7 linked regions of the Homo sapiens genome follow. The protein of the gene in region 5 purifies or fractionates together with the protein of the main gene of each other region. This does not show direct contact. Each region holds a gene or a part of one and is shown on either strand. Other genes may lie near its edges.

Region 1 (3,500 bases), on a different chromosome or scaffold from region 5:
TTGTGTATGTTCTGATATCCCTTTGCTCTACTTTTAGAGGAGTGAACCCTAATAGGATGGTAGCAGCATTCTTGTTTCTTTATATCTCTCCTCTGTGATTGTATACCGTTTTTTCAACTTAAAGCAACTTCAGCTGGAAATATGTAGAGGTTGGCCAAGGTGAACTAAATAGTCTGTAACATTGATTAGATATCAAGCAACGTGAGCATGGTAGCAAAAGCACTAACTGAAGCCAGTGATTTAATTTTTAATTCTGATTCTGATAATTGATGATATAGCTCCTCGAACTTTGTTTTTTGTTAAAACTTGGAAAATATATTTGTATTATTTTGGACAAATTATTTGAACTCTCTGGACCTTGATTCAATTTATATATAAGGTAAAGGCATTATACTGGATTATCCTGCAATTTCTTTGAGTTGTTAGAATATAATGTAGCTTATTAATAGCAATATTAGCAGTGTAGTAGATTCTGACTGCAAAACCTAGCCTTTTCTATTGATTCATTAGTGGTAGTAAAGGTATTATCTGATTTATCCTTTTTAATAGGCAGTGCTTTGATCAAGTGGGAAATAGTAATGGACAAATAAAATCAATGATCATTATCTAACTTGATGCCTGCTTTTCAAAAAGTGAGCAAATTTCACATCTTCACCCTTAGACATTAATTCATGGCACCTACTATAAGTACTCATCCTCTTCTTACCTATCTTCTTTTCTATAGGAGATAAAGTGGTTATTCAGACCCCCCAATACAATTTTTTGGTTTGTTTTCACAGCTACTTAAAAGATTAAAATAACTATTCTTGCAGATATTTCTAGGAATATTTTTAGAAATAATATGAAATACAGGGATAATAGGCCAATTATGATCTTTATTTTTAATTTCTACAGAAAAGTACTAGAGAATATATCTATAGAAACTTCTTTCAGATAACCCTAAAGATGATACTAGAATGTTTATAAAATTATTGAGAAGATTATTTGTGTTATAAAGCTTATTTGTACCATAGTAAAGGATGTTTTTGTTCCTCTTCATTCTGGGCTAATCTGTCAATACTGAAGTCCAGTCTTTTCCCCCTTTTCTTACCAGCTCAACCTTGATTCCTGTGACCCATTCTTTCTGATCTTTCGTAGTTCATAGTCACCAGGCATGAGTACCTTGGATAGCCCTCTGAAGTCTGTTACCACCCAGATTTCCAACTCGGGTTAATTGGTACTAATTCTATTAGCTGGTATAAATAATCCAAAATCTGTGCAGACTCTGGGAGCAAAATGTTCTACTCAGTTTGGAATACTGTGCCTTAAAATATATTTCATTGTAACAGCACCTTGTATATATAGTTGGCCAAGGACAGAGTTGTTACAAGTTACGTGGAACTTTCATAGCAAATCTTGACAGTAAATACCTTGTTCTTGTATTAGGTCTATATCCTGAATTGACCTTTAGCAAGAATCTTTAGATCTGCTGGAGGGCTGGGATGGCTTTTGGACTTCAGTGAAAAAGAATTTCTGCTACTCATTGTTGATAACGCTTCAGTACTGTATAAATGTTTATCCTTTTCCACGTAATTTGTTTTCTATGATATGAGAACTTTTATTATAATTTGCCTCAGTCTTGATAGAATCTTAACAAAAATAAAATCTGTGGTCGTCTGAGGTATTCTCCATGCTATAACCCAGTTTAGCTGATGCATTTGGAGCTTGGGTGCTGAAATTAAATATAACCTATTTGAGTTAAGGATTTATTACTAGTGCTCCAGTGGTCACAGGAACAATAAAAAAGGAACAACGATAGAAATACGTGATCTAGGAAAGAAGGCAACTGAAAAACCTGAAAGAAAAAAAATGAAAGATTAAAAGTATACGATATTCTATTTTGATTTAGCAATTACTTGTTTTCTAGTGTTCTGTCAATTTTTGGTGACTTTTATAATTACATTAAAACTAAGATGCTGAATTAAAATAAAGTTTCTCTTTTATTCAAGCACCAACATTCACTTATATTACCTATATATTGCATCAAGTTTTGAGCCTTCAATCCCAGAAGCATTGATTGACTGTCTACTGTGGTTCAAGTACTGTGCATAAAGATGAATAAATATTCTGTCCTTGGCTTAGTCTAATAGTAAAGGCACTCTTAGAGGAGGGACAAATATTTTGCCTAGATAAGATTTGAGAGATAGTAAGTGCGGAATTTCTCTTCATAAAAATGGTAGTGTTAGTTGTTTAGAGGGAGAAGTCCAGCTATGTAAGGTGAAAGTGGGGCTTATAAAAGTGGATCTATTGTTTAAAAATTAGTACTTTGCTCCTAAAATTTTTACCTAAGTGTTACATCCAACAACAGATGAAAGTAATTCGACAGTAGCATCTGCTTTATTCATTTCATATTTCCAGTGCCTGACATATTGCTTGGCATATAGTAGTTTAGTGGATGTGTTTGATGAATGAATGAGTAAAAATTATTTTTCATGTTAAAATAAAACTTTGAATTACATGAGTATACAACTTTTGTTCCTTCAAAATACCCATATTTGTCAAATATGACCGAATTACGACTTTTTTTCTGTTCCACTAGTTTCTACCTTAGAAGTGACATTCTGCGTAAGGTAGTGGGGGATTACTAAGTGATCATGACTTTTCTGAAGCAGGTCTTAAATAATTATCTAAGCCTTCAGTCATTTCAAAATCTCTGTAGTGTAAATGATCACAGGCTCTAAATCAGATTGTTGTACAAGGTAATTGACATGTCCTGAAATGTAACATTCAACATTAACAGTAGAAACAGGCCTCATTTCTCCCTCTGGCTTTTATTGATCAATTTTGATATTGTCCAGATCCCATGTTAAACCACTTGATTTAGAGATGACTTAATTCTAAACTTCCTCCATTTTTAATTAATAAGATTCAAGGTTGCAGTAAATTGTTAATCTTATTTGGAATTATATTAGAAAGTCGATATCGGAATTGGAACCACACATCTTTTTCTTATTGTGGGTACATGGGATCTTTCCCAAATAAATTCCTGAGCAACAAGAAAATCTGAGACTTGTTTTAAATGCTAAAATGATTAGTTGGAATAATGTATACATTCATGAGATGACTAAAGCACTAGTGGGGTAGTTTCTACTGCAGTAGACTGATTTTTCTTAGCCCAAACCTTGAAAGATGAATGTTTTAGTAGATGGAGAGTAGGTGGGGATGATATTTTAGATATGGCAGAAGCAACTTGAGTTACAGCAATTGGGGAGGGGATTAGAATATTGTGATTAGGAGAAGTGAGGAGAAGAGTGGGAGAGAAGACTGAAGGATATCTGACACCTTCAAACACACCCTCAAACACAAACATTGGCTAAAAAAGTTGATGCAGTTCAGGGTGAAATCACACACATGATTGACATAAATAACATTGTGGAAAAGTGACTTTGCAAAGACCACACAGGTAGTTGCAGAATAGAACTTACTGGTTATAATTTTTTTGATATTTTACTGAATAGCAT
Region 2 (3,500 bases), on a different chromosome or scaffold from region 5:
CACCACTGACTGGCCTGTGTCCATGGCTTGCCTTCTCTTGCCTCAATTTCCTTTTCTGTAGAAGAGAGAGAGTAGTAACTGTTTGTAGAATTGTTGGGAGGATGACATCAGATGGTGCACATAAAGCGCTGAGACAGTACCTGATACAGCAGGGCCCAGTGAGTCATAGCTGCCCTGTTTTCTTAGGTAATTCAGGCTTTCTCTGCCTTGGCACTGTGGACATTTTGCACGGGAACATTCTGTTTTGGGGGCTGTCCTGTGCATTGTTGGATGTTTAGCAGCCTCCCTGGCTTCCCACCCACTAGATGCCATTAGCAACTCCTTCTCCCCATCCCCAGTTGTAGCAAGCAAAACTGTCTTGGTGGATGTTTTTTGGGGGATACAGTTGCCCTGGTTAAAATCTACTGGGAGCTGCTCTCTCTCCTCTGTGCTGCTGTTGCAGCAAAACTCCCAAGAGAAGCGGTATCTGTTTATGTCTAAGAGTCCAACTCGGGAATCAGACTTCCCCTGCCTCACTTTCCTACCTCCAGGCCGTTGGCTTGGATGAGGGGCTGCACCTCTGTGAGCTCCTCACTTTGGTGAGCAGGCCTCATGGGGCAGCACAAAGCAGATGCTCTGAGTGCTCCATTTCGTGTGCTGTGATTCACATTCCTTCCTCCGCCACTCCAAGTAGCCCTCAGCTACTGGGCATGTTTACTTTAAAGTAAAACCAGGCTTCACCTCTTCTCTGTGAAGGAATAAAACTAGTCTGCCCTTTTCTGAGGTGTCTTAGAACTTCTTAGAATGTTCCTTCATCCCCCTCCCTCCTACTGCACTTGGCGAATCAAGCAGCTTAGAGACCAAGAAACCTTGTACAGGTGGAGCCTCGGCAGCGCTGCCCCGCGCTCCGACCCTGCTTCTGTTTCTTGTCTCTTGGTTGCCTTCTGAGAATCTGCCCTTCCTCTGGGCAGAACTGACTTGACTTTAGTGATGGGCCTTTGGATAGAGGTAATGGCAGGAAGTTAACTAATTTTTTGAATTTCTTGTTTTCTAGTGTGTTCTTATTATTTTAGTACTTTAATGGTATTATGTACTGAATTTTAGCCAATAAAGGGGGAGGGAGGTTGCATCAGTACACTTAAAAGTGTGTGTGTGTGTGTGTGTGTGTGTGTGTGTGTGTGTGTGTGTGTGTATTTTGGAGACAGGGTCCTGCTGTTACCCAAGCTAGAGTTCAGGGGCATGATTATAGCTCACTGTAGCCTCAAATTCCTGGGCTTAAGCAATCCTCCTGCCTCAGCCTCCTGAATAGCTGGGACTACAGGCATGCACCACTACACCTGGTGATTGATTGATTGGTTGGTTGTAGACACAGGGTCTCTTTGTGTTGCTCAGGCTAGTCTTGAACTTCTGGGCTCAAGTGATCTTCCTGCTTTGGCCTCCCAAAGTGCTAGGATTACAGGTATGAGCCACTGTGCCCAGCCAAAAATATTTTTATAAAGTCGGAGCTTTTGTGTTGTTTGGGAGGATTTCTTTACAAATCGATTATTTTTATGTCAGTGGGTGTCTTAGCTCCATATGTAGAGTATACAGTATGGTTTTATAACTTTTGATTTACACAGACATACCTTTGGAGCCATGGCCACAGTTAAGATAGTGGGCATATCAATAGCTCTGGGTCCTTTTTTGTTGGAGACAGGGTCTCACTCCATTGCCCAGGCTGGAGTGCATGATGTGATCATGGCTCACTGCAGCCTCGACTTCCCAGGCTCAGGTGATTCTCCCACCTCAACCTCCCAAGTAGCTAGGACTACAGGCATGTGCCACCACGCCCAGCTAATTTTTAAATTTTTAGTAGACATGAAATATTGCTGTGTTGCCCAGGCTGGTCTTGAACTCATGGGCTCAAGCAATCCACACGCATCAGCCTCCCAAAGTGCTAGGATTATAGGCATGAGCCACTAGTGCCCAACCTAACCCTGGGTACTTAAAAGAGAAAAATCTAGATATGGTTTGTAGTAGCCAGTTGGAGGCTACCGTGTTTTGTGTGAAACTGTCATACTTAGAATGGTTTAGAAAGTCTTAGGAGAATGCCTGCCTGTTAGGTTGGTTTAACTTGTAATGGGCTGTGAGGGGTTGTTGCCGTGTGGTGGGGGTCCTTCCCTCAGAGAGGCCTCACCCGCCTTGCTGTGCTTCTGGTGCTAGAGTTTCAGTCCTAGTTGCCCCTGAGGCGCTTGCGACTGTAGCCGCTCAGTATCTGTCTTCTAGTCTGTGACTTGAATGGGAGTTGGGGGAGCAGAGGAACTGGGAGTGAAGGGCTCTGGGTTGGGCTTGATTGTTGTGATTTTCTCTCTTTTTTTGTTTTTTGAGATGGAGTTTCGCTCTTGTTGCCCAGGATGGAGTGCAGTGGCGCGATCTCAGCTCACTGCAGCCTCCACCTCCCTGGCTCAAGTGATTCTCCTGCCTCAGCCTCCCGAGTAGCTGGGATTACAGGCACGCGCCACCACGCCTGGCTAATTTTTTTTGGTATTTTTAGTAGGGACGGGGTTTCTCCATGTTGGTCAGGCTGGTCTCGAACTCCCGACCTCTGGTGATCCCCCTGCCTCAGCCTCCCACAGTGCTGGGATTACAAGCATGAGCCACAGTGCCCCGCCGATTCTCTCTTTTGAGGCTTTTCCTGCTCGGGGACTTCTGGTTTCCCAGTTCTCTGTTGTTTTCTGAAAGGAAAGACTGTGAAATGACCCAGAACAGTTCCTACTCAGAGTTTAGAAGACACTGTCTTGGCATGATGCCTGAGTTGGGAATAGATGCCGCTGGCCCCCCAGGCTTCCTGCACACTCCCTGACCAACAGACTGAGTGTGTTTGCTGTGATCCCACTGACAGAAATTACCAAGGCCATCTGGGCATGCCTGTACCTGTGCTGCCGGATGCAGTTTGGTCAGCAACAGACCACAATATGATAGTGGTCCCATAAGACTATGATGGTGCTGAAAAATTCCTGGCACCTGGTGACGTTGGAGCTACCATGTTGAGGGCAGTGTATTACTCGTGTCTGTGGTGCTGCAGTAGGTGTGACCAAACCTACTGCCCCAGTCATACCAGAGTATACACCTACAGTTACGTACAGTACCATACAGTACGTAATAATTGATGATAAACGACTGTTACTACTTTGTGTATTTGCTATACTTTTAAGAGCATATTCTGCCTACTTACTAGAAACAAAGTCAACTGTAAAGCAGCCTCAGGCAGGTTCTTCAGGAGGAATCCAGAAGAAGGCAATTGGTGTGACAGGAGATGACAGCTCCATGTGTGTTGTTGCCCCTGAATACCTTCCAGTGGGGCAAGATGTGGAGGTGGAAGATCCAGACCCTGTGTAGGCCTAGGCTAATATGTGTTTTTTGTGTCTTTTTGGGTTTTTGGTTTTTTTGTTTTGTTTTGTTTTGAGGCAGGGTCTCTCCCTCACCTGGGCGGAAGTGCAGTCATGACTCATTGCAGCCTTGACCTCCTGGGCCCAAGTGAT
Region 3 (4,111 bases), on a different chromosome or scaffold from region 5:
TTAAAAAAATGTATTGACTTCTATTGGTTTGCCAAATGAAGTTTAGTATTAAATCCAAAATTGAGTCAGAGCAGTGTGAACTGAGACAGCCATCTTCATCTTCTCCCTCTTTTTTTCAGTTTGTTTTGAAATTTAGTTTTATATACTTAAGACTTACCTTCTGGCAATTTGGAATTAAATTTCTGAGATTGCTGTAAATTATTTCCTTTCTTTGTTTCTCTTCCTCTTTCTTACTTCCCTATTTTACTCTTAATATTTTATTGTTTTAGTTGAATTCTAAAACATCTTATCAGAACTTAGAGTTTTTATTTCTCCACCCACAGAACCATGGAGTCTTTAAGTATCAGAAATTTGTCTCCTCGTCAGAATCTTCTAGATTTCCAGAAGTTTCCAAGTCGCTACATATAAATGTTGCAGAAAAACGTGTAATTCTCATGTGCAAGTAGGCTTTTTTCAGCGGATACATTTAGCATTATAGTCAATTGTTATTTCGTTGCCTTAAAAGAAGCTGTTTTCATTGTAAAGGTGATGTGTTTTTACCATATAATTCAAATTTGCATAGGTACTTCATATTTTAAAAGGTGACTCACAGGTATGTCACTAATAAAAACAGTAACATTTAAACGACTGAGAAGGTAGGGGCTCTAAATAAAGTAAATGCGTCGGCGAGGGTAGGAGCGGGAAGAGGCAAAGGGGTGCGAAATTCCCATCCCAAGCCCCCTCCTCCAAAGACCGAATGGCAACTTAGTTGTGCGGGAAGGTTCCCCCCTATGCAGGGCAGCCCAGTCCAAGCCGGCCCGATCCGGGGCCGAGTGAGCAGTGGTTCTTGCCGCAACCGCCACGCAGCCTCGCTGCCGCCCAAGCGCGGACACCTGGTTCCTGGGTCCCCCGCGCGGAGCCCCGGACTCCTCGCCCCTTCTCCGAACAACTTTCTCCCTGCTTGAACTGATTCTCGCTGTTGGTAGACTGCACAGTCACAGTATCCAGCCGGACAGGACCTGCTTTGCCGGGACTGGAAACAACTACCGCGGCAAAAGAGGCCGTTTCGCCATGGGAAGAACAAGAACTCCCGGCTTGTCCAGGGGCAGCCCCTCTCTGCGCTGCAGGGCGCCTACCCTCGCCCCAGAGGCTCTGCGCCGCGGGCGGGGCGACCCCGGGGGTCGCGCGCCCTCTCCCGGAGCGCGCCCTCCCTCCCGGAGCGCGCGCCCGACGGCCTGCCGCGGCCCCGGCGCCCCCGCCCCTTCGGGCGCTCCGTAGCCGTGACGTGCACGCCGCAGTGCCGGGGACTCGGCGGGGCGCCGGCCGGCGGGCGGAGACCGACTCGGGATCTGTCCGAGCAGGAAGCCAGCCTCAGCCCGGCCGCTGTCGCCGCCCTGTCCTGGTGCCCGTCCGCGTCGTCGCCCTCTTCACTGGCCCTCATCACTTCTCACCGCGCCCTCCAGCTTCACCCGTACAGGTAGCCCCGCCGCCGCGCACCTGCCTTCGCTCCCGCACCGGTGAGTGTCCCAGAGACCCACTGCGGGGCGTCGGCGCCGGGGTCTCGCGTTCCCTGGCCCGGCCTTGCTCCCGGGCCTCCTCGAGCAGCTCCGGGGCCGACGCTTCTGTTCACTGCCCGAGGACGCGGGTGGGAGAAGCAGGTGATGGATGGGTGGGCCCTGGGCAGCAGTGGGGCCGGCGGTGGTTCTCGTTTCCACCGAAAGACAATCAGTCTCCTTTCATGGGTTCTCATCACCAAGGTCCCTTTGTGTTTCTTCCCTGGCTCCCAGGTAGAAGCAGAGCACTCAGGTGCCTAACTCGGACTTGGACACTCCGTGATAGTTTTATTTTCTCTTTTGTAAACACGCTTAAAATTCAGTGCAGGGGGAGCGCAGTTTGCTCTGAGATGTGAAGATCAAATGATACCATTAATAGTCTAATCATGTAGGAGACCAGATCGAGACTTTCTAAAGCCTTATTCTTAGTCTCCAGGTGGTCCAGTACCTTGAGTATGTTAATTTACGGATATGCTACTGAACAAGAACTTTTTTTGTTAATTTCCAAAAACTCCCTAAAACGATTAAAATGCTTAAACTCTGGGATTTTAATTTTAAGTAGGACACAATTTGATGGGGTTATTGCTAGAACATCCGTGTTTAAAAGTATTTCCATACAGTTTAAAAAATTCATTACCTTTTTTTTTTTTTTTTGAGACGGAGCCTTGGTCTGTCGCCCAGGCTGGAGTGCGGTGGTGCGATTTCCTCTCACTGCACCCTCCCCCTCGCGGGTTCAAGCAATTCTCTGCCACAGCCTCCCGAGTAGCTGGGATTACAAGCGCCCACCACCACGCCTGGCTAATTTTTTTGTATTTTTAGTAGAGACGGGGTTTCACCATCTTGGCCAGGCAGGTCTTGAAATCCTGACCTCTTGATCCATCCGCCTCGGTCTCCCAAAGTGCTGGGATTACAGGCGTGAGCCACTGCGCCTGGCCAAATATTCTTTACATCTTACCTGGCATAAAGTGATGTGGTGGAGGGATGCTTAAATCCTGATTTACAAGTATTAGTGAGAAATGAGGAGCACTGCCCTAACTTAATAGACTTAACTGTACGGGCTAAATAAGCCTCATTTTTTTTTTTTTTTTAATGCTCTGGTGGTATAGATGCAGTCTATCTAAATAAAGTCAGAACTTGAGAGTTTTAAAAATTAACTTTTTTTTTTTTGAGACAGAGCCTCGCTCTGTCAGCTCACTGCAACCTCCACCTCCCAGGTTCGAACGATTGACCTCCCTCAGCCGCCCGAGTGGCTGGGACTACAGTAAGGGCGCGCCACTGCCCAGCTAATTTTTGTATTTTTAGCAGAGACGGGGATTCGCCATGTTGGCCAGGCTGGTCTCGAACTCCTGACCTCAGGTGATCCACTCGCCTCGGCCTCCCAAAGTGCTAGGATTACAGGCTTGAGCCCCCGCGCCTGGCCTGAAAATTAACATTCTTAAGATTTAGCTGAAACTTATCTTCACACCATAAAACGTGAATCTTGAACTTGGACTGGTAGTGGTCATGGTACAAAGGTTGGCGGCAAAACAGCATTTCTGTACAAATTAACTGAACTTCCTAGATGTCTTGGGTTGTGGTTTTCAAACTGGAGAATGTTTAGTGAAAAAATTACCTTTGTGCCTTTTTTCCTTAATTGTAGAAACCGCCACAAATGTTACAAAGTGGGCTATAGCCAGAGCTTGAAACCATGCTGCCGTTCAAAATAGCTCACAGACTTTTATATATACAGCTCATTTTGAGTATTTTACGTTACGCAGGAATTGCATCCACTTTGGTAAACAGAAGTCATTTTAGTCTTATGTACATTTGCCCATTATTTTTGTATTTTTTGTGTGACATGCTGTTTATCATTCTCTCATCTTTGTAAGTTACATTTTTGTTTTCAGAAACCATTGTAAATGTAACAGAAGTATGAATGACATTTAAGGAAAGATCATGATTAAAAACTGTATAATATATAAAACTATATATGATATACATATATATTCTTGGTTAGTGCCTAGAAACATGAGCAAGAAAAATGTTATGAACAATTACAATATTTAATGTAAATTAATGCAATTAAATATTGCATTAAAAACAAAAGATCGTAAATCATAACCAGTAGGGATTATCTGAAATGGATTTTTCCCTGTTTATGTTTACGTGGTCAAGTTTTAAAATAACAGTGGCCAGGAAATCTGAGAGAGGCTGAAGGCTCTGTTCTCATCCTGTTGTGACTTTGCCTGGAGTCTGTGGTGTATCATGTAGCCCATTGTTTAGACAACTGGGCTGTATCTGGGTTCCAAAATGTAGCTTTCTTTAGAAAGTTTTAAAGACTTTGACCATGTGAGGCTTGAACAAATGCAAACATCCAAACATTGAAAAAAACCCATTTTAACTTTCTGTTGATAGTTGAGACTCCATTTTTGACATGTAAAATACCAGTTTTAAGAAGAGTTTACTAACCTCTGTGTAGTTTCATTTTTATATATTAAAATATCTAAAAATATTGGGAAGTGTTATAACTTAAATAAATCTCAGAGTTTATTTATTCTTTTTTTTTTTTTTCTCTGAGATGGAGTCTTGCCCTGTCATCC
Region 4 (3,312 bases), on a different chromosome or scaffold from region 5:
ATTAGGAGCACTTTTAATATTAAGACGGCTTAGGCCGGACACAGTGGCTCACATCTGTAATCCCAGCATTTTGGAAGGCCGAGGAGGGCTGATCACTTGAGGTCAGGAGTTCGAGACCTGCCTGGCCAACATGTTGAAACCCCATCTCTACTAAAAATACAAAAATTAGCCGGGTGTGGTGGCACACACCTGTAGTCCCAGCTACTCAGGAGGCTGAGGCAAGGGAATCGCTTGAACCCAGGAAGTGGAGGTTGCAGTAAGCCGAAATCATACCACTGCACTCCAGTCTGGGCGACAGAGCAAGACTGAGTCTCAAAAAAAAAAAAAAAAAAAAAAGATTGCTTAGTAATATGGGAAACAGACTATACAACCAAGAGTTGCAAATAAACTTCCCAGCATTTTCCCTGACAAATTTATTACTGGGAGAAAAAAAAAAAAAAAAAAAAAAAAGGACAATATGGCTTCAATTGTGAAGGCTTAAAAAATCCTCTTCTCCAAGAAAGTATCATCTGTTATTTCAACTCAAATGCTGGAACTTAGCATATGTATATGGTAAAGAAGCTATTTCTGATCACATCCGTCTTGTCTCGAACTAGTAAAAATGATAATTCAGGTCACCACAATTCCTTTAAAAGCCATACGTCAATGTCATTAAACAATAAAAATAAAAGATTATATCTCTCTGGATAACTAAGGTTGTTCAAAACACATCAACTGCCTCTAAAGTTATCTTGGAACACAAGCAAACATAAAACATAACATACCTTATGATTTGAGTTAAACAGAAACCTAGCTTTTGTGTAGGTAACATTAATGTCAAGCATTGCATAGTAAACATTTATTGAATAAATCAGGGGTTAGGAAACTGTAGCTTGCTAGCCAAATCCAGCCCCATTGCCTTTTTTTATATATTTTTTGAGACTGAGTCTCACTTTGTCGCCCAGGCTGGAGTGCAGTGGTGCGATCTTGGCTCATTGCAACCTCCGCCTCCTAGGTTCAAGTGATTCTCCTGCCTCAGCCTCCCGAGTAGCTGGGACTACAGACGCACACCACCACGCCCAGCTAATTTTTGTATTTTTAGTAGAGACAGAGTTTCACCATGTTGGCCAGGATGGTCTCTATCTCTTGACCTCGTGATCCGCCCACCTCGGCCTCCTGAAGTGCTGGGATTACAGGTGTGAGCCACCACACCCGGCCTGATGATCAACTTTCAAAGACTCACAAAATACTATTATTTTATAATACCCAAATTAGATTTTTCTACAGAAAACTTGAGATTATTGCTTCCCTTAGAAATATAATAATTTTTATGTAATTTTAAAATGACAAACCAATAAACATAGCAATGAGGAGCTCATCTTAAATTTTGTATCTGTTCTGGCTTGAAAATACACTTTACCGGATGTATCCTGGTTCCTTTTTTCCTTCTACTACTTCTTTGTCAACCTCCACACATACGATATCAGAATTAGGGACTTCAAACATTGGTTCTAGTAACAGCTTTTCCTAAAGAAATAAAAAGTAATGAATCACATTGAAAACAGATTACATACAAGTGCTTTTATTCTATAAATCACAAATTGGAATCCATTCACTCAAGGAAAAAGAAACAAACAAAACAAATATATATATATATATAAACATATATATGGGATTATATATATAAACATATATATATATATATTTGGGATTATAGCTGTGATTACAGGCGTAAGCCACCAAATCTGGCCAATTTTTTGTATTTTTAGTAGAGATGGGGTTTCGCCATGTTGTCCAGGCTGGTCTTGAACTCCTGAGCTCAGGCAATCCGCCTGCCTCAGCCTCCCAAAGTGCTAGGATTATGGGCATGAGCCACCATGCCCAGCCTCTTTTTTTTTGTTTGTTTGTTTGTTTGTTTGTTTTGAGAGATGAGGGTGTATGTTGCCCAGGCTGGTCTCAAACTCCTGGGCTCAAGCAATCCTCCTGCCTTGGCCTTCCAAAGTGTTGGGATTTATAGGTGTGAGTTACCAGGCCCGATCCCGATTTTCTGTGTCATTAATCATATTATGTCTATGTCCTTTGTTGCAAACACCTTGAAGTTCCTTTTTGAGAAAAAGCAAAATATAATCTACTGTGACTAAAAAAAAAAAAAAATTCAGGCCAGGCGTGGTGGCTCACGCCTGTAATCCCAGCACTTTGGGAGGCTGAGGCAGGCAGATCACCTGAGGTTAGGAGTTTGAGACCAGACTGGCCAACATGGTGAAACCCCATCTCCACTAAAAATACAAAAATTAGCCAGGTGTGGTGGTTCTTGCCTATAGTTCCAGCTACTTGGGAGGCTAAGGTGGGAAGACTGCTTGAGCCTCAGCCTGGGAGGTGGAGATTGCAGTGAGCCAAGATCGCACCACTGCACTCCTTTATTTGAGACTCTGTCTCAAAATATATATACATATTTTCCAAAAGAAAAACAGGGAAGCTTAATATACTCAAAACTCAGACCAAGAAATAATTGTTTTTATAGAATAATGCCAACTCACCATTATGGACCGAAGGCCTCGTGCACCTGTTTTTCGTTCTAGTGCCAATCTGGCTATAGCTTTCAAAGCATCCTCAGTAACATTCAGTTCACACTACAAATACATTAAAAATAAATTATAACTTTTATTGTTAATTTGTACCACCAGAAAATGTACCATTAAGTGAGGGCACAATTTCTCATGGTGTTTTGGAACCCTGCCTTCAAGAAGCACTTGTTTCTATCAATCCATGACAGTATCAGTATTATGAATTCCAAGTTTGTTCTGAAGCTTGAAGATGTTTTCTAGATTAACACGGACTCCCTAGGATTTTTTTCAACATTTACTAAACCTCTGTGTGTTACATACTAGGGATTTAATGATGAATAGACATCATCTTTGCCAAGCAACTTACAGTCTATTGTGTGATGACAGATGACAGATTAGCAAACTAGCATTTATAGTCCAGTGTATGTACATGGAGCTAAGGGAGCAGCAAAGGGGGAGACATCTAAATAAGACTAGGGAACCACCGGAGGATTTTAAGCAAGGGAGTAAAAACATTAGCCTTATCTTTAATCATTCAATAAATATTTAAGAACTTAATATCTATTTGTTGGGCACTGTTCTCAATGATCCATTCCAGAAGTAAAGAGGAAGATAATGATATTTTGGTGATAGTCACAGACAGACATGAGACAGGCAGACCAATTAAGAACTAAATGCATGGGTCAAGGTGAATAATATCAAAGGGGCTTGACTTGAGGCAGTGGCAACGGAGAAGAAGAGACTGATATTTAGAGACACAAAGTTCACA
Region 5 (3,500 bases):
GGTGTGAGCCTGTAGTCCCAGTTACTTGGGAGGCTGAGGTGGGAGGATCACTTGAGCCCAGGAGTTCAAGGCTGCAATGATCTGTGAATCCCCATTAATGCACTCCTGCTGGGCAATACAGCAAGACCCTGTCTCTACAAAAACAAAAGAGACCTAAAGAAAATTGTTTATTTAGCTGACAGAGATCACATATGCCCTGCTTGATAAAGTGTGTTTGTCTGTGCTCTGGGGGTCCTGAGGAGAGTGTGCAGTAGATGGAATAGAATAGAAGGCTCCCTGGCCTGAGACAGTAGAAACCTCTGTCTCCTCTCTCACTGGCTCTGTCACCCATGTACACACATGAATCCTCCCTAAGGCTATGCCCACTCTGCTCCCACTGGCTTCTAAGTGGGGACACCACCTGATGCCACCTCCTTCATGCACCACCCCTGGCCTTGGGCTGGACTCACATGGGTGGCCATAATAGTGTCTTGAGTGAATCAGTGACCAAAATATCTTTCCACTCCCTCCAGGTTTCAGACTAAATATTTCCAGGGGAAATACGGTGATTTAGACAGCTCTCTCATCTCCTTTGGGCCGTGTCAGACTCCAACCCTGGGATTCTGTGTGGAGAGACATGATAAAATCCAGTCCTTCAAACCAGAGACCTACTGGGTGCTGCAGGCCAAGGTTCCTTGCCTTTCTCTATTCATGCTGGGGCTTTCTGGGTTTGGGGCATGGATTCTGAGAGTCTTCCATCATCATCAGCCGGCAGGCCCCGGGCTGAGGGCAGAAGTGTGGACGGCTGTACCTGGAAGTGGTCTGTGGTGCCTAGGGCTGAGGGACCCCAGCCTTCATGGGGGCAGTGGGAAGAGACTGGGCCTGTATATGCTGAATCTGGATAAGTGGGAATGAGTTCAGCTCTGGCAGTGCAGGGTGAGGTCACCCCACAGGAATCAGTGGCTTCAGTGGTCAGGTCCAAGCACTGGACTGAGACCATTGGCTTTCAAACTTTTTAAAATTCCTAGAACCCTTTCTTCAAATAAAAGCCTCCACAGAAGCTCACTGTAAGACTTAATACAGCTAGGCACAGTGACTGATGTCTGTAATCCCAACAACCTGGGAGGCTGAGGCAAGAGGATTGCTTGAGGCCAGGAGTCCAAGGCTACAGTGAGCTACGATCGTGCCACTGCACTCCAGCCTAGCAACACAGTGAGACACTGTCTTGGAGCTGCTGTGGCTGACACGGGGCTTGGGACCCTGGCGGTGGCCATACCTACCACTGGCCAGGCACTGGGGATAGGCAGGGGTGGTGTGAGAAGTAGGGGCTCAGGTGCTTCTTAGGGACACATCAGCCTCAGCTTTGGGCCACCTTCCTGAGACTGGCTGCCTGGTTTTGGGGCAAGTGGTGGAGAGGGCCAGATGTCAGCTTGCGTATCTGCCCACCTGAACAGGTACAGCTGTGAGCCATTACAGCCAGGGCTATTTGGCTCCCAGACAAGGACCAGCTTCATCTGTCCTGGTTCTTCCTGGCGTTGGGCTCACCTGGAGACTTTTTCTTGTGCGTTCACCCTTTATCCTTTTTCCTGCAGGTTAACACTGACAAAGACAGATCTCTCCTTTTGGACTGGGACCGAGTAAGAGTGTTTGACCGGGAGATCGCACAGATGTTTTTAAACATGACAAAGCTGGAGAAGGAAGCCCAGGTGTGCCTGCTCCACCCACATCTATCACAGTTGCCTTGGGTGAGGGTGGCCCTTGGATGCCTCCCGCTGGAGGAACAGCCTGTGATCCTAGTCCACGTCTTTCTCCCCCTTTCTGAAACACAGACATCTTTTTGGAAAGCTGAATGGTTACTCCCTCATATACTCCTAAGATATTTCTGCCCAGTGCAATAGTCACAGTGTACTGCATGCCCGCTCCATACCAGGCACTGTCCACACCTGTGACCTTGTCGGACCCCTTCCACTCTCCCCTTTCCACGTGACCCGCTAGGCATTACCTCCGTGTGGCAGGACTCCATTTCACACAGAGATTCAAACTAACAACTGTAGAGGGACCTTGGTGCACACTGATGAACTTGCCCAAGGTCACAGCTAGCAGGGGAAAGTCTTGAGATTCCAATTGCAATCAGCTTGCGTGCTTTTATGGGATTATGTTTCTTACTCAGGGCTTCTATGAATTGAAAGGACATGCTGCTTGGCTGTTAGGAAAACGGTGAGGTGACCTGGCTGCATGGGTTGGGGACACATCTGTGGCTATTGAAGTAAACATGCTACAGGCATGACAGCTACCAGATCCGTCGAGACACAGCCTGGCCTCCTTAGCCGCCTTCTCCTTGTCCTTCTCTGGCCTTCCTTGAGTGCCCTGTTGCCCGCCATGCTATCGTCTCAGGCATCTGAAACTTCTAAAGCTGCTCCAGGCTGTCAGCATTGATCACATTCCTGCAGAGACACTGTTGCCACCTCCAGGCCTCACGCTGGGGAGCCCAGCTTCACATAACAACTGGCCTCTGTTAGCACCCACATCTGTCTGTCTGGAATGCAGAAGGCACTGCCCTGACCAGCCTACGTGGGATTGGCAAGGGCCAGGGCCTGGGGTTGAGTTGTTTGGATTGTTTTTGCCATAGGCAAAACAAAGAGTTGTCTCTTCCGACAAGTGTTCAGCAGAGGTAGAGAGTGGCAGGACCCCAACAAAGCACAGCTCATAGATGCACTCCACTAACCTGCATGGTGTTTACACAAATTCCAGAATAGTTACCAGCACTTAAAAATTACGAGATTTCATACTAAAATTCTGCCTTCTAGCTTCTCTTGAAAAATCAGAAGAGGTAGCAATACTAGCAGGTGCAGGCAGCAGCCCTCCCCACAACAAGGAGTGGTACTTCCCCTGGGACGGGCCCCACTTGCCATCCCTGTAGCTTGGCTGATGCTGGCTTCTGTAGGATTTCCATCTGCAGCCCTTCTGACTCCTCCTCAATCTTCCAGGTTTTCTCTTTCCCTAGAAAATTCTCCAGAAAAGAATATTCAATCACTTGAGGCCAGGAGTTTGAGACCAGCCTGGACAACACAGGGAGACCCTGTCTCTGAAAAAAATAATTTAAAAAGTAGACGGGCATGGTGGCACGTGCCTGTAATCCTAGCACTTTGAGAAGCTGAGGCGAGAGGATTACTTGAGGCCAGGAGTTCATTTAAGACTAGCCTGGGCAACATAGCAAGACCCTGTCTGTACAAGAAATTGAAAAAAAAAATTGGTCAGACATGATGGTGTGTGCCTGTGGTTTCAGCTACACAGGAGGCTGAGGCAGGAGGATCACTTGTCCCAGGAGTTCAGGGCTACAGTAAGCTCTGATGGTGCCACTGCACTCCAGCCTGGGCGACAGAGCAGGACCCTGTCTCTTAAAAAAAACAAAATTTGGTTTTTTGTTTGTTTGTTTGTTTGTTTTGAGATGGAGTCTTGCTCTGTCACCCAGGCTGGATTACAATGGCGTGGTCTCAGCTCACTGCAACCTTCACCTCCCA
Region 6 (3,500 bases), on a different chromosome or scaffold from region 5:
GAGGCAGCACAAGTGGAGCTGTTGAAAAGCTCTCAATCATGAGGGCTGAGTCGGGGAAGAGAACAGGAGAGACAAGCCACAGAGAGAGTACAGCAGTAAGGCACTATTATGGTGTTTTGTTGTTTTTGAGACAGTCGCTCTGTCACCCAGGCTGGAGTGCAGTGGTGCGATCTCGGTTCACTGCAACCTCCGCCTCCTGGGTTCAAGCAGTTATCCTGCCTCAGCCTCCCGAGTAGCTGGGATTACAGGCGCCCACCACCGTGCCCAGCTAACTTTTTGTATTTTTAGTAGAGACGGGGTTTCACCATGTTGGCCAGACTGGTCTGAAACTCCTGACCTCAGGTGAGCCACCCGCCTTGGCCTCCCAAAGTGCTGGAATTACAGGTGTGAACCACCGCACCCGGTGACAAGTTATTTCTTGTAGGAGAAGAAAGAGACATGGGTGAATTAAAGGGAAGCTTTCTGGAGAAGTAATTTTATTGGTAGCAGTGGTGGAGGGAAGTTTAGGGAAATCTCATGCATGATAGTTAATTGTACTGCACATTTGCTGTATACCAGGTACACTTTCAGATCCCAGCAGTAGCTCCACAGGTTAAGTGGTAGTGTCATATTTCAGATGAGAATGGATCGGTGTGGAAGTTGAGCAGTGTCACTAAGGTAGCAAGGTAATAAATGGCTCAAGTGCAGCTTCAAACGTAGGTCTGCTTGACTTCAAATGTTTCTGGAATGTGGAAAGTTGAAAGTGGGTTTGGGACAGTCTTTCACTTTTGAAAACTGGCCCTTTTTCTGTCTGGAGTTCCTGAAAGGCCCTAGAAAGTTTCCTTCTGAAGCATCGTGTTGCTTAGTTTAGTTGTTGTAGTAAGTCAAGGCCCTACATGTCCTTTCTGCATGTTTCCACAGCAACAGACGATCCCTTGGCTTGAGCCAGTTGATTCTTGTAAGAATGTTAGTGCAGTAATACAGTAACTAATAAAGAGGAAAGCAGATGCCAGTGGGTCTGGAGGAGCCTTCAGACAGCATGTGATTTTTAAGGAGATGTGGGATGAGGATTGCTTCTTGTTTTGTATATGGAGTAGTGATCAAAGTCTCTCATATTCCAGCCCAGGGCTGGACTATATTAGTGGATAGTTGGTATGTCAATTGTACTATATTAACCATAATGTAGGCCTGGCCAGACTAGCCACTGTAGGATCTAGGATTTAAAACTATCTCACTCTTCTGTCTTACACAAAAATAAATTCCAGGTGGATTAAAGAGAGACATTTAAAAAGTAAAAGAAGAAAAGTGAGTATTTGTCTATCTCATAATAGGAAAGGCCTTCAGCATAAAAGCAGATACAGAAATCATGAAGAAAAAGTCGATCATGTCTACATACACAAATTAAGTTGTTCCAAGTGTTAAATACCATAAACCAAATCAAAAGAGAAACTAGGGAAAATATTTGACTATTAGAGAGCAAATACTTAGAGATCAAAAAATAGCAGGAAAATAGGCAAACTCAGAAAATTCAGTAAAGAAGAAAATCAGGTGTCGGGTATGTGATTACCTCACTGGAAATAAGATTGGCACAACAAAGCCACCATGAGTTTGTTTTTTTTTTCCATTATCAAATTAGCAAAAATTTTAAAACATGATCAAGCACAGTCCCTAGTATCAGGGAAGGTCTAAGAAATGGGGCACTTGTGCTGCTAGTAGTAATATAAACTGGTAGACTAATAGGAACAAGTGGGTAGAATTTTAGAAGTCTTTGAAATACATATCCTGGGCCAGGTGCGGTGGCTCACGCCTGAAATCCCAGCACTTTCGGAGGCTGAAGTGGGCGGATCACCTGAGGTCAGGAGTTTGAGACCAGCCTGACCAACATAGTGAAACCTCGTCTCTACTAAAAAATACAAAAATTAGCCGGGCATGGTGGCACGTGCCTGTAATCCCAGCTATTCGGGAGGCTGAGGCAGGAGAATCACTTGAACCTGGGAGGCGGAGGTTGCAGCAAGCCGAGATCGCGCCAGTGTACTCTAGCCTGGCCAACAGCGTGAGACTCCGTCTCAAAAAAAATAAAAAAATACATATCCTGGCTGGGCGCAGTGGCTCATGCCTGTAATCCCAGCACTTTGGGAGGCTGAGGTGGGTGGATCGTCTGAGGTCAGGAGTTCGAGACCATCCTGGCCAACGTGGTGAAACCCCCGTCTCTACTAAAACTACAAAAAAAATTAGGTGGGCATGATAGCTCACGCCTGTAGTCCCAGCTACTCAGGAGGCTGAGGCAAGAGAATCACTTGAACAACCCAGGAGGTGGAGGTTGCAGTGAGCCAAGATTGCACCACTGTACTCTAGCCTGGGCAACAGAGCAAGACTCTCTCTCAAAAAAAAATAAAATACATATCCTGTGATCCAGCAATTCCTTTTTTTTCTTTCTTTTTTCTTTTTTTTTTTTTTTATTTTTTGAGATGGAGTCTCGCTCCGTCACCCAGGCTGGAGTGCAGTGGCGCGATCTTGGCTCACTGCAACCTCTGCCTCCCGAGTTCAAGCAATTCTCCTCTTTCAGCCTCCTGAGTAGCTGGGATTACAGGCTCATGCCACCACCCTGGCTAATTTTTGTATTTTTAGTATATGGAGGTGGGTTTCACCATGTTGGCCAGGCAGGTCTTGAACTCCTGACCTCGAGTGATCCTCCCACCTTGGCCTCTCAAAGTGCTGGGATTATAGGTGTGAGCCACCGCGCCCAGCTGTAACCCAGCAATTCTACACCAAGAAATTTATTACAGAGGCGAAATTGAATATGCTTCCCCCATGCTTTCACTAGTTTGATAAACTTCATATTTCCAAAACTTTATAGAGTGCTTAAAAAACTACATAGGTAGGTGGCACATGCCTTAAAGTGGTAAAAGGCCACTGACAAACTATAAGAAACTCATTTTTGTACTGACATATAGGAGTAAAAGTCAACTAGGAAAATTAAGAAAAATATGAGAGGCCAGGCATGGTGGCTCATGCCTGTAATCCAATACTTTGGGAGACCGAGGCGGGTGGATCGCTTGAGTCCAGGAAATCGATAGCAGCCTGGGCAGCATGGCGAAACCCCCTTCCTACAAAAAAATAGAAAAATTATCCAGGCGTGGTGGCGCATGCCTGCAATCCCAGCTCCTGTGGGGACTGAGGTGGGAGGTTCGCTTGAGCCCAAAAGGTCGAGGCTACAGTAAGCCATGATTGGGCCACTTTGCTCCAGCCTGGGCGACAGAGCAAGACTGTCTCAAAGATGAAGCTGCAGGTCTCTGCTCACTATGGGTGATTCCAGGCCACACTTTTTTTTTTCCCTCATGCAGAATTTTCATAGAGAAACACTGTTCTCTTTCTGCTAGTCTTCCATTTGTTACCACTGTAAAATAGAAAACAGAAAATAAAATCAAAAGCTTTTGGACTTGGGAGCTTAAGGACAGATGTGTACACATTTTGGTGAAATTTGTATATAAGCACATCTTGGTTTTATTTGTTGTATATAG
Region 7 (3,500 bases), on a different chromosome or scaffold from region 5:
TCTCCAAGAAAAAGGCATTTTCTCATTATTAAAACCTGGCAGCCACTGTATCTATTACCTTCAGAAATGCCACCATTAGTTTGAGGGAACATTCACTTGCAGTAATGTTTTTACTATTCTCAAAGTAGTTGAGCGTAGTCAGGATTCTGACAAACACTAAATAGCAAACACTTAAACAAACAAATTTCATAGCTGCCAATTACAACATTCCTTGTGACTGGAAGCTAAGCTATCTCCAGCAACACAAATATGTTAACCACTTGCTCACCTATGAAATTGTTCCATTCAAAATCGAGATCCCCTTGGTTGGCCAAACAGCCTCTCATGATGTTTGAGCAGTAGTTGTAACATGGCTTCACAGTCACGAGACCCCGGCAGTGGGAGCAGTAGATCATCTTCAACAGGGCATGGGTACACTGGGCTGTGGGGTTTACCTAATGTGTGAAAAGAAAAAAAGACAGTAGTGGCGGGGCTAAAATAGAGACAGAAATTGCTTCTATCACATTGACACTGAAGGCTTGGCCATGAACTTAAGAATGAGTTGTGATTGATCACAATTAGTAAGCCTGGACTGCCTCCTGAAGACATAGATTAGATAAAAGATACATGTTGGGACAGGGGAGAGGAGGGAGATGACCCAAAACAAACAAGGTGCACCAACTCCCACCCTGTAAACACCCATTCCTCCCCCACCCCCTTCCCTCCTGGAGTCTCTCTCTCACACACACATAAATTGCTCAATTATCTCAAAATCCTTTTACAAATAACTATGCAGGGTGAGCCATGAGATGCAGTGGAGGAGACTATCTTCATGTGCCCACCATGCACGTCCTGCTAATAGCCTCAACCATCAGTGTTTGTCTTTGCCAGACTGGAACAGAAGCACATCTTCTTCTGCATTACATTGACTACAAGGCTGTCCTTTGAACCCTAACCCCAAATTAAGGTTTAGAAGGGTACCTACGGTGTCTTCTGTTCTGTGCCAAGAGCTGTGCAGAAGGCAAAGTTAATATATTCTACAAGGCAGAATATGAGTAATCTTAAACTTAGGGGGTGTGTGAAGGTTTTCCAAGGCTTGGGAGTACTAAAGCACAGAGTGTTCACAGAACACTTGATGAAAGAGGTGGGGCTTTGGTTAAATTTTCGAGAAAGGGGCTGGACTTAAGTGGTCAAACAAAGGGAGAGCATCCTGAGTTAAGTTCAATGAAATGAACAAAACCTGTAGGAGAGTACAGGACATGTCACTGCATCTCAGAATGGGGTTGGGGAATTGCGGGAAATAAGGTCAGGTGCACAGGAGTATGCGTGTGGCCAGAATTTAGAGGGGCTTAAACATCAGGCAGAAACTGGGATACCAGTTGCCAGGCACGGTGGCTCACGCCTGTAATCTCAGCATTTTGGGAGGCCGAAGTGGGCGGATCACAAGGTCAGGAGTTCGAGACCAGCCTTGCCAGCATGGTGAAACCCCGTTTCTACTAAAAATACAAAAATTAGCCGGGCATGGTGGTGTGTGCCTGTAGTCCCAGCTACTCAGGAGGCTGAGGCAGAAGAATTGCTTGAACCTGGGAGACGGAGGTTGCAGCGAGCCGAGATCTCACCACTACACTCCAGCCTGTGTGACAGAGTGAGACTCTGTCTCAAAAGAAAGAAAGAAAGGAAGAAAGGAAGAAGGAAAGGAAAGGAAAGGAAGAAAGAAAAAGAAAGAAAGGAAGAAAGGAGAAACAAACAAACAGGGACACCATATGGCAGGACACATGGGGCTATGACTGGAAGTTTGTGAGGAAGGAAAGGAAGAAAGACAGAAACATTACCCAAGTCAGATTGGGCTGGCTGTCCTCTCCAGAGAAATGGGACTTCATTTCATCTAGTTTTATAAAGTGAAATTATTTGGGGTGTAGAAGAGCTGATTCCATCCGGTCACTTGTTTTCCTCAATGCTTAGAAAGGATTGGGGCTAGGTATAGCATTCTAGCAGCTAATTAAAAGTTCCTGTCTCCTCTTTCTCTCTGCCCCACCCTCCTCTTTTGGAGTCAGTATCAGAGGATTAGTGCATTCTTCTGTGTAAGTACCCACCAGTTCTGCTAACACAGACTTTTGGAGGCAGATACCACCACAGGGAAGAGATGCTGGGATGCAGGGCAGCCCGGCAATGCACTTCACCTGCTCTGGAGTGTTACTTTGGATATCACTTATCAGCAGTGCCCTTAGGAACAGGAACAGGGGATTAGTGGTGTCAGGAGAAAAAAAACAGTCAGGCTCCTACGTGATGCATGTGCACATCCATTCCCCTCATCCCAAACAAGGCTCTAGCCTAAAAGGGGGGAATACGTGTAACAATAAAATGGTAATTGTATACACTGCCCTACCAAGAATTAAGATTTTTCCACAGTTTTAACCATTCCCAAATGTTTTCCTAGGCACTAAATTAGTCCTAACTATGTATTAATGTACAGTAAAATTTTGGCTAACCAATATACCCTGGAGGAATGGCCTTTTCTGGATAGCCAGATTTGCTGGACAGCTGAAAGTTCATTCCTTTAAAGTCACAGATTGTTAAGACTTCCCTACATGTCCCCCTCTCCTTTTGTAAAGGAGCAAACAGGACTGGAGGGGGGAGGTGGCCTGAGAAGCATAGGATCACAGAAGTCTTAGAGTTGGAAGGGACCAGAGAGATCACTGAGTGTTGCTCTCACATTTGATAGATAAGAAAAACCAAGCCAAAGCCAAAGAGATTAAGCAACTTGCTGACAGTCACCTCACAACATCGGATTCCAGTACTATACCTTATCAAGCATTTGTGATGAAAAGATTTCCCAGATGTATCACGTTTCCCTGCCAGATGACAGGAAACTGTAATCTTAGGCACTGGTTATTTCCTACTTTAGTTTTAGTTGGGTTCCACATTGATGAGACTGCAAAATGGCTAGATTTTAAAGAGGTAAAAGTTATGCAAGTGGCTATGAAATGAAAAATCACTGAATAGCACGTGGCATTTGTTGAATATTATGCTTAAGAGGAGACAATGCCCTCGTAAGAAGAAACGTAGAAAGCTAAGGGGTCAACAAATAGTTACTGAGCACCTACTATGTGCCAGGGATTATTCTGGAATGCATTTGAATTTAGGTAACAAGGCAAGTTAAGAATTTCTATATTAGAATACAAAACCTGTTCTACAAAATACAAAGCAATTCCAATGTGGTACAGGACTTTAGGAAATGAGCAAAAATTTTAGACCCAAAATAGTTATATTCAGAAAACACTTCTTTTTTCAAAGAAGTCCTTTCTCATTCTTTTAAAAAATAACTCTAGGAAGTGGTTCATTGTATTCTTAGTTCAATTGCAAGTCAAATCATTTATGCAACAGACCTTGTAGTACCCTCCCCTAAAATAGGCTGATGGAGGCTCAAGTTTTAAAAAGAGACCAAACTAAATGACACAGTAGAGTTTTATTAAGGGAAATTATGATGCTGAGTTTGGCAGAGTTCTTCCATTTCATTATTT

The links.
Region 1: the proteins of TOP3B (region 5) and ACTR3 purify together in Homo sapiens (affinity purification with mass spectrometry, with the first as the bait; one large-scale study listed by BioGRID). This does not show direct contact.
Region 2: the proteins of TOP3B (region 5) and YTHDF1 purify together in Homo sapiens (affinity purification with mass spectrometry, with the first as the bait; one large-scale study listed by BioGRID). This does not show direct contact.
Region 3: the proteins of TOP3B (region 5) and MYO6 purify together in Homo sapiens (affinity purification with mass spectrometry, with the first as the bait; one large-scale study listed by BioGRID). This does not show direct contact.
Region 4: the proteins of TOP3B (region 5) and CLPX purify together in Homo sapiens (affinity purification with mass spectrometry, with the first as the bait; one large-scale study listed by BioGRID). This does not show direct contact.
Region 6: the proteins of TOP3B (region 5) and CLTA purify together in Homo sapiens (affinity purification with mass spectrometry, with the first as the bait; one large-scale study listed by BioGRID). This does not show direct contact.
Region 7: the proteins of TOP3B (region 5) and GPC4 purify together in Homo sapiens (affinity purification with mass spectrometry, with the first as the bait; one large-scale study listed by BioGRID). This does not show direct contact.

Annotation. Positions count from the first base shown.
Region 1 is NC_000002.12:113,959,589-113,963,088, forward strand, and holds the end of ACTR3 (actin-related protein 3), read left to right. Parts: 3' UTR 1-3,008; downstream 3,009-3,500. UniProt on the Homo sapiens protein: ATP-binding component of the Arp2/3 complex, a multiprotein complex that mediates actin polymerization upon stimulation by nucleation-promoting factor (NPF).
Region 2 is NC_000020.11:63,209,632-63,213,131, reverse strand, and holds part of YTHDF1 (YTH domain-containing family protein 1), read left to right. Parts: intron 1-3,500.
Region 3 is NC_000006.12:75,747,928-75,752,038, forward strand, and holds the start of MYO6 (unconventional myosin-VI), read left to right. Parts: upstream 1-1,311; 5' UTR 1,312-1,496; intron 1,497-4,111. UniProt on the Homo sapiens protein: Myosins are actin-based motor molecules with ATPase activity. Unconventional myosins serve in intracellular movements. Myosin 6 is a reverse-direction motor protein that moves towards the minus-end of actin filaments.
Region 4 is NC_000015.10:65,151,031-65,154,342, forward strand, and holds part of CLPX (ATP-dependent clpX-like chaperone, mitochondrial precursor), read right to left. Parts: intron 2,610-3,312; coding exon 2,517-2,609; intron 1,507-2,516; coding exon 1,400-1,506; intron 1-1,399. UniProt on the Homo sapiens protein: ATP-dependent chaperone that functions as an unfoldase.
Region 5 is NC_000022.11:21,965,788-21,969,287, reverse strand, and holds part of TOP3B (DNA topoisomerase 3-beta-1), read left to right. Parts: intron 1-512; coding exon 513-669; intron 670-1,571; coding exon 1,572-1,685; intron 1,686-3,500. UniProt on the Homo sapiens protein: Releases the supercoiling and torsional tension of DNA introduced during the DNA replication and transcription by transiently cleaving and rejoining one strand of the DNA duplex.
Region 6 is NC_000009.12:36,193,921-36,197,420, forward strand, and holds part of CLTA (clathrin light chain A), read left to right. Parts: intron 1-3,500. UniProt on the Homo sapiens protein: Clathrin is the major protein of the polyhedral coat of coated pits and vesicles.
Region 7 is NC_000023.11:133,310,990-133,314,489, forward strand, and holds part of GPC4 (glypican-4 precursor), read right to left. Parts: intron 435-3,500; coding exon 269-434; intron 1-268. UniProt on the Homo sapiens protein: Cell surface proteoglycan that bears heparan sulfate. May be involved in the development of kidney tubules and of the central nervous system.